2 separate regions of the Homo sapiens genome follow, and region 2 is linked to region 1. Evidence: fine-mapped expression QTL. A gene starts in region 1. The other region holds a variant in brackets. All regions are shown on one strand. Distances are from middle to middle.

Evidence for each region. PIP is the estimated chance that this variant, and not a neighbour inherited with it, causes the effect.
Region 2: its variant is fine-mapped to the expression of KRT73-AS1 in whole blood (TOPMed, PIP above 0.99).

The regions. Positions count from the first base shown.
Region 1 is chr12:52,607,807-52,613,250 of GRCh38, forward strand. KRT73-AS1 (KRT73 antisense RNA 1) reads left to right here and starts at 2,045. Exons shown (of 3, transcript NR_126005.1): 1 at 2,045-3,621; 2 at 4,535-5,023. KRT73 (keratin 73) reads right to left here. Exons shown (of 9, transcript NM_175068.3): 6 at 3,398-3,523; 7 at 2,809-3,029; 8 at 1,441-1,475; 9 at 1-646. The coding sequence ends at 390.
Region 2 is chr12:52,633,092-52,638,352 of GRCh38, forward strand. It overlaps the pseudogene KRT128P. Among named protein-coding and RNA genes, the nearest start is that of KRT2, 16 kb to the right of the region's middle. The variant G/T (reference allele first, on the strand shown) is at 2,230.

The sequences.
Region 1 (5,444 bases):
AACTTGTGTACCCAGGGAGCACATGGCCAAATAGTTACTGAGACAGGGTATGAAAGAGCAGCACAGGCAGATTGGGGTTACCCTTGAGAGACAGCCTTCCTCTGCACAGGGACATGCAGGCAGAGAAAAGGCCAAGTCTTCTTCCAGAAGGGGAGGCTGAGTTAAAAGGCCTCTTTGGATGGAGGCAGAAAGATGGGCTCCAGCTCTCAAATCCTGATTCAACATTAACAAAGACTGAGGCAGAGAGGTCAAGGAGAAGGAGGAGAGGTCCACAGCAAAGCAAAGCAAGAAGGAGATGAGGACAAATGAGACAGAGGAATTTCCTAGAAGAGTCCGGAGCAGTCTGCCAGGGCAAGGCAGACTACTGGGAAATGGGCTGTGTTGCACTTTTATCTCATGGTTTTTTTGGTGGGTGAGCTTAGAGCTAAGGTCTTTCCCTGGGAGTCCCTGAATTCACTTGCACTCCCCAGCCTGGTCCTGGCTTCCCCACGGGGGCTACAGTTCCCACTGCCAGTGACACAGCCCCCAGGCAGCATGCTGTAGCCCCCGCTGACAGAGCTGGGCCAGTAGCCGTAGGTGCCAGCATTGCTGAATCCAAAGCCAGCCCCTGTGCCTGCCATCCCGGCCATGGAGCTGTTGATGACCGCTGCAGAGGAGGGAGGGACGAGTGATCAGTGTATATCCCAGGACAGAGGTGGCCTTAAGTCCCCCTCCAACCTCCCAGCCCCACTAGCTTAAATACCTCCTTCTTAAGCAAACACTTCCCATCAACCATGAACTTGGGTTCATTTGAGCAACTCAAGCGCGGGAAGAATAGCCCCAGTCCTGCAAGACTCCCAAGTCAGTCACCTTGTCATTCTATGAACAAACAGGAGTAGCAAGGGCTTTCCCCAGGGGACAGATGATGCTTGAGCATCAGATAAGCCAGCAGGTTCTTGCATTTAGCTTTACAATACCTTCTGAGTATTTTTCAAAAGAATTTCCTGATTGTTAAAATTAGGGAGTTTCTGCTGGTCCCACTATAAGAAAGAGACTGCCAAACCCTGTGGGGCCAGCATTAAACTGGCTTGCACAGTGGTCCACACACCAGTCTCCACTCCCATTGAGGAGGCACCACTCTGTGCTCAGTTTCCTTCATGCAGGAGAGCCGGTGTGGGGGTGACAGAAGAGGGGAGGGGCTGAGAGTTTCACCACAGCAGGCAGGAGATTGCTATGAAAGAGGCTAGTGTGCAGTATCAGAATGTCCTGGGCACTAGCTCCACCTGGAAGAAGTAGCTCTGAATGGGGAGGCCGCAGGTCTCAGCAAGGAAGGTGAGTATGTGACCAAGTGGTCAACAGGCAGAGCCAAGCTCTTCCTCAGGGGGCTGGGCGGTGGACACCCACCCACTTTGTGTTTGTTGATGGACTAAAAGTATTCCCTCAGAGTCATGAAATACTCACAAATGCTCACGGAGTTGGTATATTCTCCGGACATCCTGCAAGAGAGAAAAGCACAGGAGAGTCTGAATCACGTGGACTCCCATAGTGGCCCTCACTGCCTAAACACAGGCTGGGGATCCCCAGCCAGACCAGCTCAGCCTTCACGCACCCCACACTTGCCAGATGGCACTGGCTGCCCTTGCATGTCTCTAAGCCCTCCCTCTCGCTCCTCAATCTACTCTTCCCACTGCAGAGATGTGGAACCTGCAACTTTGGAACCCCCAACAACATTACCACCCCCAAGGTCCCTCCTGCAGGGTTTCTCTTGAACCCATTTCTTTACTACTGTGAGCAGCTGTCTGAATAAATACATATGTGGAAAGATCAGGATCAGGAGTTGCTACTAATGAACGAACTGTATGATTTTGGGGCAAGTGACTTCTCTCCAGGTCTCAGTTATAAAATGGTGCTTGGTTAGAACAGGGTTTTTCAAATGTTCATGCTTCGTGTGCCACCCTTCTGACTGTTGCTAGGACCATGTTTGACTTGTACTGTTAGATATTTAGTATTTTTAATTGACTCTGCCTTTTACGACAAAAGTGCATTTCTTTTAAAAAGAAGTTTTTTATCACCAGGGTAAATAGAAACCAGTATTATTACCTAACCAAATAAGAAAAAAAGTAGCAGTAAAAATAAATATAATGAAAAGAAAACAATTTAAAACTTTTGGGCTAAATAATGCTATTATTTTCCCAGAGATGCTGCACCTGAGATCTACTGTCTCTTTATCAATAGGGGATATTTGTAAGTGTCTGAGAGGTGTTTTTGTGTTTTGTCTGTTTGTTTGTTTGTTTGTTTGTTTGTTTTTGAGATGGAGTCTCATTCTGTCACCCAAGCTGGAGGACAGTAGCAGGATCTCAGCTCACTGCAACCTCAGCCTCCTGGGTTCAAGCGATTCTCCTGACTCAGCCTCCCAAGTAGCTAAGATTACAGGCATGCACCACCACATCCAGCTAACTTTTGTATTTTTAGTAGAGACGAGGTTTCTCCAATGTTGGCCAGGCTGGTCTCAAACTCCTGACCTCAGGTGATCCACCCGCCTCAGCCTCCCAAAGTGCTGGGATTACAGGCACGAACCACTGCGCCTGGCCATCTGAGAGGTGTTAAAGACACAACAGCACCCAGCTAAGACTTTCTCCAAAGAGTCAAAAGAGAACTGTAAAGGAAATTGCTGTCACATTATCTGGCAGGATGCTGTTTGAAACTATGCTTGTGGGTGAAGTAAACACATCGCCAGCTCGCCGCCCCCTCCCCCCCGCCCCCAACCACACTCTGGGAAACTTTAAGGTGGAGACTTGCAGTTTCTTCCAGTCCCTCGGTCCCACCCACCTGCACTCCTCGCCCTCCAGCAGCTTGCGGTAGGTGGCGATCTCAATATCCAGGGACAGCTTCACGCTCAAAAGCTCTTGGTACTCGCGCAGCATCCGTGCCAGCTCCTCCTTGGCCTGCTGCAGGGCGCCCTCCAGCTCATCCAGCTTGGCCCTGGCATCCTTGAGGGCACAGTCCCCCCGCTGCTCGGCGTCAGCGATGGCCGTCTCCAGGTTGGCACACTGGGGTCAGGAGGTAGCATTTCTCCCTGAGTTCCTCCCTGGGCCTCGCTTCACCTCTCCCATGCTCTCAATGGTTGAGCCCTCCTCTGTCCTGCCCCATGTCCTGGAGCAGAGACCCAGCCACATCCAGGTGGAGTCCTGTCAACCTGAGACTGAGAGGCTTGCTACGCTGGGCCCCACAGCTTTATGAAAATAATCTGCAATTGTTCCAAACTTCAGATGGGAGCTAAGGGTGAGGGATGAGAGCAGGACCTCCATTTGAAGAAGGGGATTCTGAAATGGATGCTCAAGAGAAGGAGGGGGCAGGGGGTGCTAAGCAGTTCACCCCTCCCTTAGGAGTGAGTAAGGAAGGCTCCAGTCCCCTTCACCTGCTTCTTCACACTCTCAATCTCCGAGCGCAGTCTTTGGATGAGACGGGTCAGCTCTGAGATCTCATTTTTGGTGTGTTTCAGGTCATCCCCATGCCGGCCGGCTGCTAGCTGCAGCTCCTGGAACTAGAGGAAAAGGAACCAAAGCAAGAACACTGACTCAGGGCTTGGCTGGGATCAGCCTGGTACAGAGACTGTGCCTGCACTTGCAGAGCCTGGCAGAGGTGGGTCCAGGTCCCCCGCCTCACCATGTCTATCAGCAGCCTCCCATTAAAGCATTGGGCCATTGCATTTGCTTGCCTTAAGCACAGCTGATCTCATGGATGGTTAGAATTGGCCATAAGGACTGTTGAATGTCCCAGACTCTCCATATGGCAACTTTATAACACACTACTCCAATTATGACGTTCCTCTGCCTATCGTCCTTCAAAGTCAAGGTCAAATTCAAACTCTTACATGGCATCCAGGGGCTCATTTCTTTCTGCCCTTGCCTAACACCTATCTGACTCCCAAGCTCGGCCAAACAGTCCCACACTTCCCCCAGATGTCCCACGTGTTCTTTTGTCTCTGAGTCTTTGCCTGAGCCTCTCCTCTGACCTGAAAAACCCTCCCCCATCCATCCTCCTTTTTCCCTAGCTAGCTCCAACTTAACCAGTGCAGAGTCCCTTCCTCCATGAGGCCTTCCGTGATGCCCTGGTTGGGTGCAATTCTATTCCGTTGCCACTGGCACACCAGTCCATAGGTCTCCCCACACTGTAGTGTATTGTGAACCTGTTTCCATGTGTTCTCCATCCGACCCAGAATGAATGGATGACAGAGACTTTTTCTTTTAACTTTGAATTCCCAGTACCTAGCATAGTGCCTAGTTGGTGCTCAAAAAAAGTCTGATGAATGAATGAGTGAGCCAATGAGCTGTCCATCTGTATTTTCTGTGACTCCCTCCCTTTGATACCTTAGCTGGGCCCCAGCCCACAGGCAGCTTTCCAGGGCTGGGATGGAGGGAGGGATTAGCATGGAGGAACATTTTGTGTGCATGATGGGGGTGGATTCAGCTATACCCCAAAACCACTAGCCATGAATTTTAGGTCATCTACTAATTCGGGATTATTTCTGTCTTTGTTGTCATCTATTAAACAGTCACAGAGAGTACATCAGTTCTACTCAGAATGTGGCTCAAGGGGAAAACAAAACAGGGACCCTTCAGCACTCTGGTGTACTGCTCTGTCTCTGTCACTGGGTGCTCCACCCCAGCATGGCCCAAGATTTAGGATTGTTCCTAAAGATGTCAAGTTATCCAGAAAGCAGAGAAGGCAGAAGGGCTTCTCTCTTCACTCCTTGTATTTTATCTTTGGTGCCAACCCTAAACAAGGGGCCTTCTCCTGCTTCTCCGCAAGGCTGTGTGAGCAGGATGCCTCCCCGTACACTGGTTCTGACACCAAGCAGCTTCATTCTGAGGCAAACAGATGAACATCTTCCTGCCACTCCTCTGTCAAGCCACACAAAGCCCTTAGAGTAAATGCTTCTTTCCCAGAGTCACCTTCTGATTTTCTGCCTAAATGCAGTGGAATTTGAAGTCAGTCACCTAGATTCTGATCCAGCTGCGTCACTTGTCAGCTATTGCCTTTGGTAAGTAGCTTGAACTCCCTGGGCCCTACGTTCTTTATCTTTAAAAAGGAATCATCAAAATAAGCAATAATAATACTGTTATGATTCTGGGCATTCCTGACCCTAGCTTGCAACACTAATGTGGAAGGCTTTGGGGACTGAAGAGTTGAGTTTGAACCTTTACCAAGAAGCCCTAGCCTATGTCTCCTAGACCTTGAAAGCCTCTCTCCTCCACCACTGCAGGCTAGCAAGGAGGCAGGGAGAGGGATGAGATAAGATCTCCCAAGAGTGTGGATTCCCTTGAGAAAGAGCCTGATAAACAGCAAGGAACAATCAGGAAGTTGCCATCTTGATCTGAGAAACCAAATTATCTAAAGAATCACTTCCCACCCACTACCATTAGGGGAGTTAAGATCTGAGGCCTCAAACTTCTGCTTTATCC
Region 2 (5,261 bases), 25 kb after region 1:
CAGGCATAGTGGCAAGTGCCTGTAATCCCAGCTACTCCGGAGGCTGAGGCAGGAGAATCTCTTGAATTGGGGAGGCAGGGGTTGCAGTGAGCCAAAATCGTGCCACTGCATTCTAGCCTGGGGGATATAGCAAGACTCTGTCTCAAAAAAAAAAAAAGAAGATTGTTATGTCTGCAGATAGTCCCTTTTCCCTGTATTTCTTACACCCCTGAATGCACATCCACAAGAAATAGATTCACAAAAAGAAAACAAACAGAAAGATATCCCAAGGATTCCTGGCTGGAGAGGCTAATTCTCTGCCATTGCACTTCTTTCAGACCGAGATCTGGGACCGAATACCAGCTGTCCTACCAACCTCAGGCTCACTCACTTCCTCTTGTATTTCTCCATCGAGTCCTGAGTGTTCTTGAGCTCTACTTCCTGCCTGGTTTTCTCTGCCATGACCTGGGCCACCTGCTTCCTGAGGTTGCTGATGTAGCCCTCGAAGATGAGCTCTGGGCTAGTGGTGCAGCAGTAGCTGCCATCTAGCTGCCATCCAGCTGCCATCCAGCTGCCACAGCAGCTCCCAGTTGGTTTGCAACACCTGGTTCTGCTGCTCCAGGAACTGTACCTGGAAATAGGAACTTGAAAGGCTCAGCCCCAGAGGACAGCCATAGAGGACTTCAGAAGTCCCTGCTGGCCTGGCAAGAGTGACAAGTGATTCCAGTGTGGCATTAATTCCCACAGGCTGTGACAGAAGTAGTTTAACCCTATTATTTGCTGAGGCTCAGACACAGTCTCCTGGGGGAGGCTTGGAGAACATGAAAAACAAAGTGTGCGCCTTTCACCAGGGCCAGTTTCTAGAGATAGGGACTAAAGTGGTTGGCCTCAGATAATCTGGACCTGCACTGTCCAATACCGTAGCCACAGGCTACATTTCCATCACGGCAAACAGGCCTTTTCCGAACGTCCCTCAAGTTATCCAGCTCCGGCTTTCTAACCTCCAAGCATGGGCACTCACTTTGTCAATGAAGAAGGAAAACTTGTTGAGTTTCTTGATCTGCTCCTGCTCCTACTACTTTACCTCCTAGACCTCAGTGTCAATCATCACATCCAGAGACTCCAACAAGCTTTGGTTTATCACAACTTCCTGGATGCCTCCAGGGCAGACCAGAGAACCTACAGACCCATGCTCCCCAAAACCACTGTCAAGACCAAAGCCCTCCTTGCTAGGCTTCCCACCCCAAACTGTCCACCTCCATAGCTCCTTTGTCTGCCTCCATGGTCCCGGCCTCCAGCCATGATGATGGAGATGCTCTTTCTCCCCGCAGGGCTAACGAGACTCCAGCTGCTATAACCGCCTGGCTCAGCATAGCCTTGGCTTCGTGCCCCTCTGTGCTGTTCCACAAGAGTGGCAGCCTCTGCCAAGGCTGTGCTGCTCGTCTCTGGCACCCTCCCAGCAGCATGACCCAGCCACTACCAAAGCCTGTGCTCTGGCACCTCAAGCATACACCTGCCTGCTCACAGTGACTCCAAGGCAGTGAGTGACATAGAGAGGTGGGAAGAAGGTGTCTCCATGTTTCCCTGCCAGAATGCTGAGGTGTCACCTTATACCTCTCCTGGAGCTGGCAGTGGGCCAAAGACAAATTCATGGGTTTGGCTACCCTGACACTAAAAGTGACAAAAAAATAAATACAGCCTTCTACTTGGGAACAGTCAGTCTAGTAACTATTGCTTAGTTAGCAGGGTTTTCTTATTATGGTCTACCTGTCAACTATCTGCTGACCTAGGCAATATGAGGTGTGTATGATTATGCCCAAAAAGCTATCAGGTCGGGTATTTTCTGAGATTGTTGCTATTTCAGCACTTTTAGTTTCTACCAGAGTGATATTAAAACCAGAGATACATCTTCCTAAAGCTTTAGGACAGAGACACTGATGAATTAGAAACTGATATCTGTAAAGGAAAGTGATTTAGAGACACATACTAAATGGAATTTTCTACAGTTGGTGAGAGTTACTTCCACCTCCCTACCAAAAATATACACAGTATCCTGTATATATTTTCCCAAAACAAGTGTCCAAAAAAGGGATTAGGAGTTAACTGTGTCCACCAATGAAATATTACATAACTAATAAAAATTACTGGGCTTATGCAAACCAAAAAATTCTGTTTTAATGTTAAGTGGGAAAAGGAAAAATCAAAATTGAATAATCAATATGACCACTAAATCCTAGGCACAGAAAAGAA[G/T]GCCTAGGATAAGACTGGAGGTATAGGATGAGCAGAGAAATATTGTTTAACTGACTAAAGCTAAATACTTTAGAAAAGCATGTTCAAAAAGAAAATACATCAAAGTGTTAACAGTAGTTGTTTTGTGTAGTGGTGAATTTTTTAAATTTTCTATATTTCTATTTTTCCAAGATTAAAATAATAAGCAGGTATAATTTTTACAACAGAAGCAATCAAGCCCCATAAGGCTTCAAACTCCTCTATGGGGAGGTGAAGCAGGTCTTCTTTTAGAAACTGTGATATATATATATATATTGGAATACTACTCAGCCACAAAAAGGAATGAATTGACAACATTTGCAGGATGGGACTGGAGACTACTATTCTAAGTGAAGTAACTCAGGAATGGAAAACCAAACATTGTATGTTCTCACTCAGAAGTGGGAGCTAAGCTGTGAGGATGCAAAGGCATAAGAATGACACACAGAATTTGGGGACCCAGGGGGAAAGGGTGTGAAGGGGGTGAGGGATAAAGGACTACAAATCAGGTTCAGTGTATACTGCTTGGGTGATGGGTGCACCAATATCTCACAAATAACCACTAAAGAACTTATTCGTGTAAGCAAATACCACCTGTTCCTCAAAAACCTATGGAAATAAATTTTTTTTTTTTTTTAACATTCAAGCAGGCCAAGAACATTGGGTCCTTCTTTCGGTCACTCCATAACTATTTGGCCAGCTGCCTGAGAGAATATTCTGGGCTCAGGATTCTCTTTGTATATGTTTTATCCAGGTCAGAGAAGTGCAGACTTACTCTTGTCTTGGGCCCCTCCTTCTCTTCTTTCCCCTGAGTCCGCATACCTGTAAAGTCACCTGTGAGATGACACGCGTGCCTGGCAGGGCCCAACAGCCCCTCTCAGCTAGTCTCCTTCTCTGGATCCAGGTGAGAAGCAGAGGTGTCTTCCCCATGCTATGATCCTGTACCCTTCCTGCTTAGCCAGGCCCTACCCTGCGGTCCCACCCACTGTCTGAGTGCCCCTAACCCGGCCACTGGGGAGAGAGTCAGGCAAAGGAAGAACACGTGGTAGGATATGTGGTGGAAATGATGTGAAATGCAAGAGCCATAGCCGTGGTTTCCAATGCCAGCTCTACCACTTCCTAGTTTTGTGATTGTGGACTTTTCAGCCTTAGCTTTGCTATCTGTCAAATGTGGTGATAATGACACCTGTCCTTGCTACATAACCAAGGTGTTATACAAACTGTTCGGGGTTGGCGGGGGTGGGGGGGCAGTGGAAATAAATGTTAGTTTTTACCACTGAAATTTTACAAAGATAAATGTTTAAGTCCACATCTTTTCCCAGCAGCAGCAACAGCAACAGCAACAGCACGGGTATCATGTATTGCCCGATTATTGTGTTTCACAACTGTAAGTGCTTTACAAAGATAATCTCCTTTAATCTCCACAACAGTACTATGAGGCAGCCACTGTTATTATCTTCATTTTTTTAGTAGTGAAAACTGAGGTTTAAAAGATGAAGCACTTTGCCCAAATGACGCAACTAGTTAAGAATTAGAAACAGGATTTGAACCAAGGCCAACTGATTCAAGAGCTCAATACAGAAATATTGAGTTGGGCCCATAAATGCTGAGGAGACATGAATTGGGACCCCTGCTTGGAGGTAGTGCACTTTGAGCAGGTTTCAGGGGAAGAGAGGAAGCAGGGAGAGGGCAGTCTTATCAGGGATGAGGTGGGAGCCTCACTAGCCCCACTAAAGAGAGTTGAGAAAGAGGTCTTAGCAGGGGTCACAGAAAACCAGAAGGGGGAGAGTGAGACCAAGGTGACAGGACAGGCCAAGGCTAACGAGATTAACTATGACAAAAGTGACAGGAGGAGGGTGGGTGCCCAGGCCGAGACAGAATATAATTGTACAGTCTCCACTATTTCTTTTCTCCTCCTTTTCAGGCAATTCTGGGATTCTAGTGAAAGTCATCACCTTCTTAAAAATTTCTGATAATTTTTCTTGAGTACTCTGCATATTTGACCCCAGATAAACTTCTGTCAAGGTCATGAACTTGAGAAAGTGTTCTTCTATCTCTTAGGAAATTTCCAGTCTAAATAGGCAAAGCAAAAGTCTGCTATAAGGAGTCCCCAAGCCCTCTCTCTGCTCCCAGCCTCCCCGTGCGTCCTGGAACCCTCTCCTGTGCACACTCCGGCCCCAGCTGTTTCAGCAGGCTGCTGGCTTCATTTTCCTTAAGACCCTGAACAGAAACCTGTGGTTGCTTCTAATGCTCTGCCACGATGGCTACTTGAAAAAAATAAATCTTTTTAGTTTTTGTAAAAGAAATACATGCTTTGTACAAAAACTCAAACAATAGAACACAGTATAAGAGCACAGTGTAAAAGTTCATTCTTTTCACACTTTGTCACTCTGTCTCGTCTCAGGGCTACTGCTAGCCTATAGAGTGCATTCGTGACTATTAGACAAAGATGTTCCTTCCTCCAGACAGATAAAAAAATATTTAATGAAATGGCAAGTTGAATCCAGCAATGTATAAAAAGGTTAATATTTGGGAGGCCGAGGCAGACAGATCACGAAATCAAGAGATCGAGACCATCCTGGCCAATATGATGAAACCTCTTCTCTAATAAAAATACAAAAATTAGCTGGGCATGGTGGCACATGCCTGTAGTCCCAGTTACTCAAGAAGCTGAAGTAAGAGAATCACTTGAACCTGGGAGGCGGAGGTTGCAGTGAGCCAAGATTGTGCCACTGTACTCCAGCATGACAACAGAGCAAGACTTCATCTCAAAAAAAATAAATAAATAATAATAATAATAATAATAATATAGCATGACCAAATGGAGTTTATTCCAGGAATACAAGATTAATTTAACATTTGAAAATTAATCAATGAAATTCACTATATTAACAGAATGAGGGAGAAAAGTTATATGATCATCTGAATGTTGAAAAGTATTTGAAAAAAATCAATGTTCACTCAAGATAAAAACACCCAGTACACTGGGAGTATAGGGAAACTTCCTGAACTTG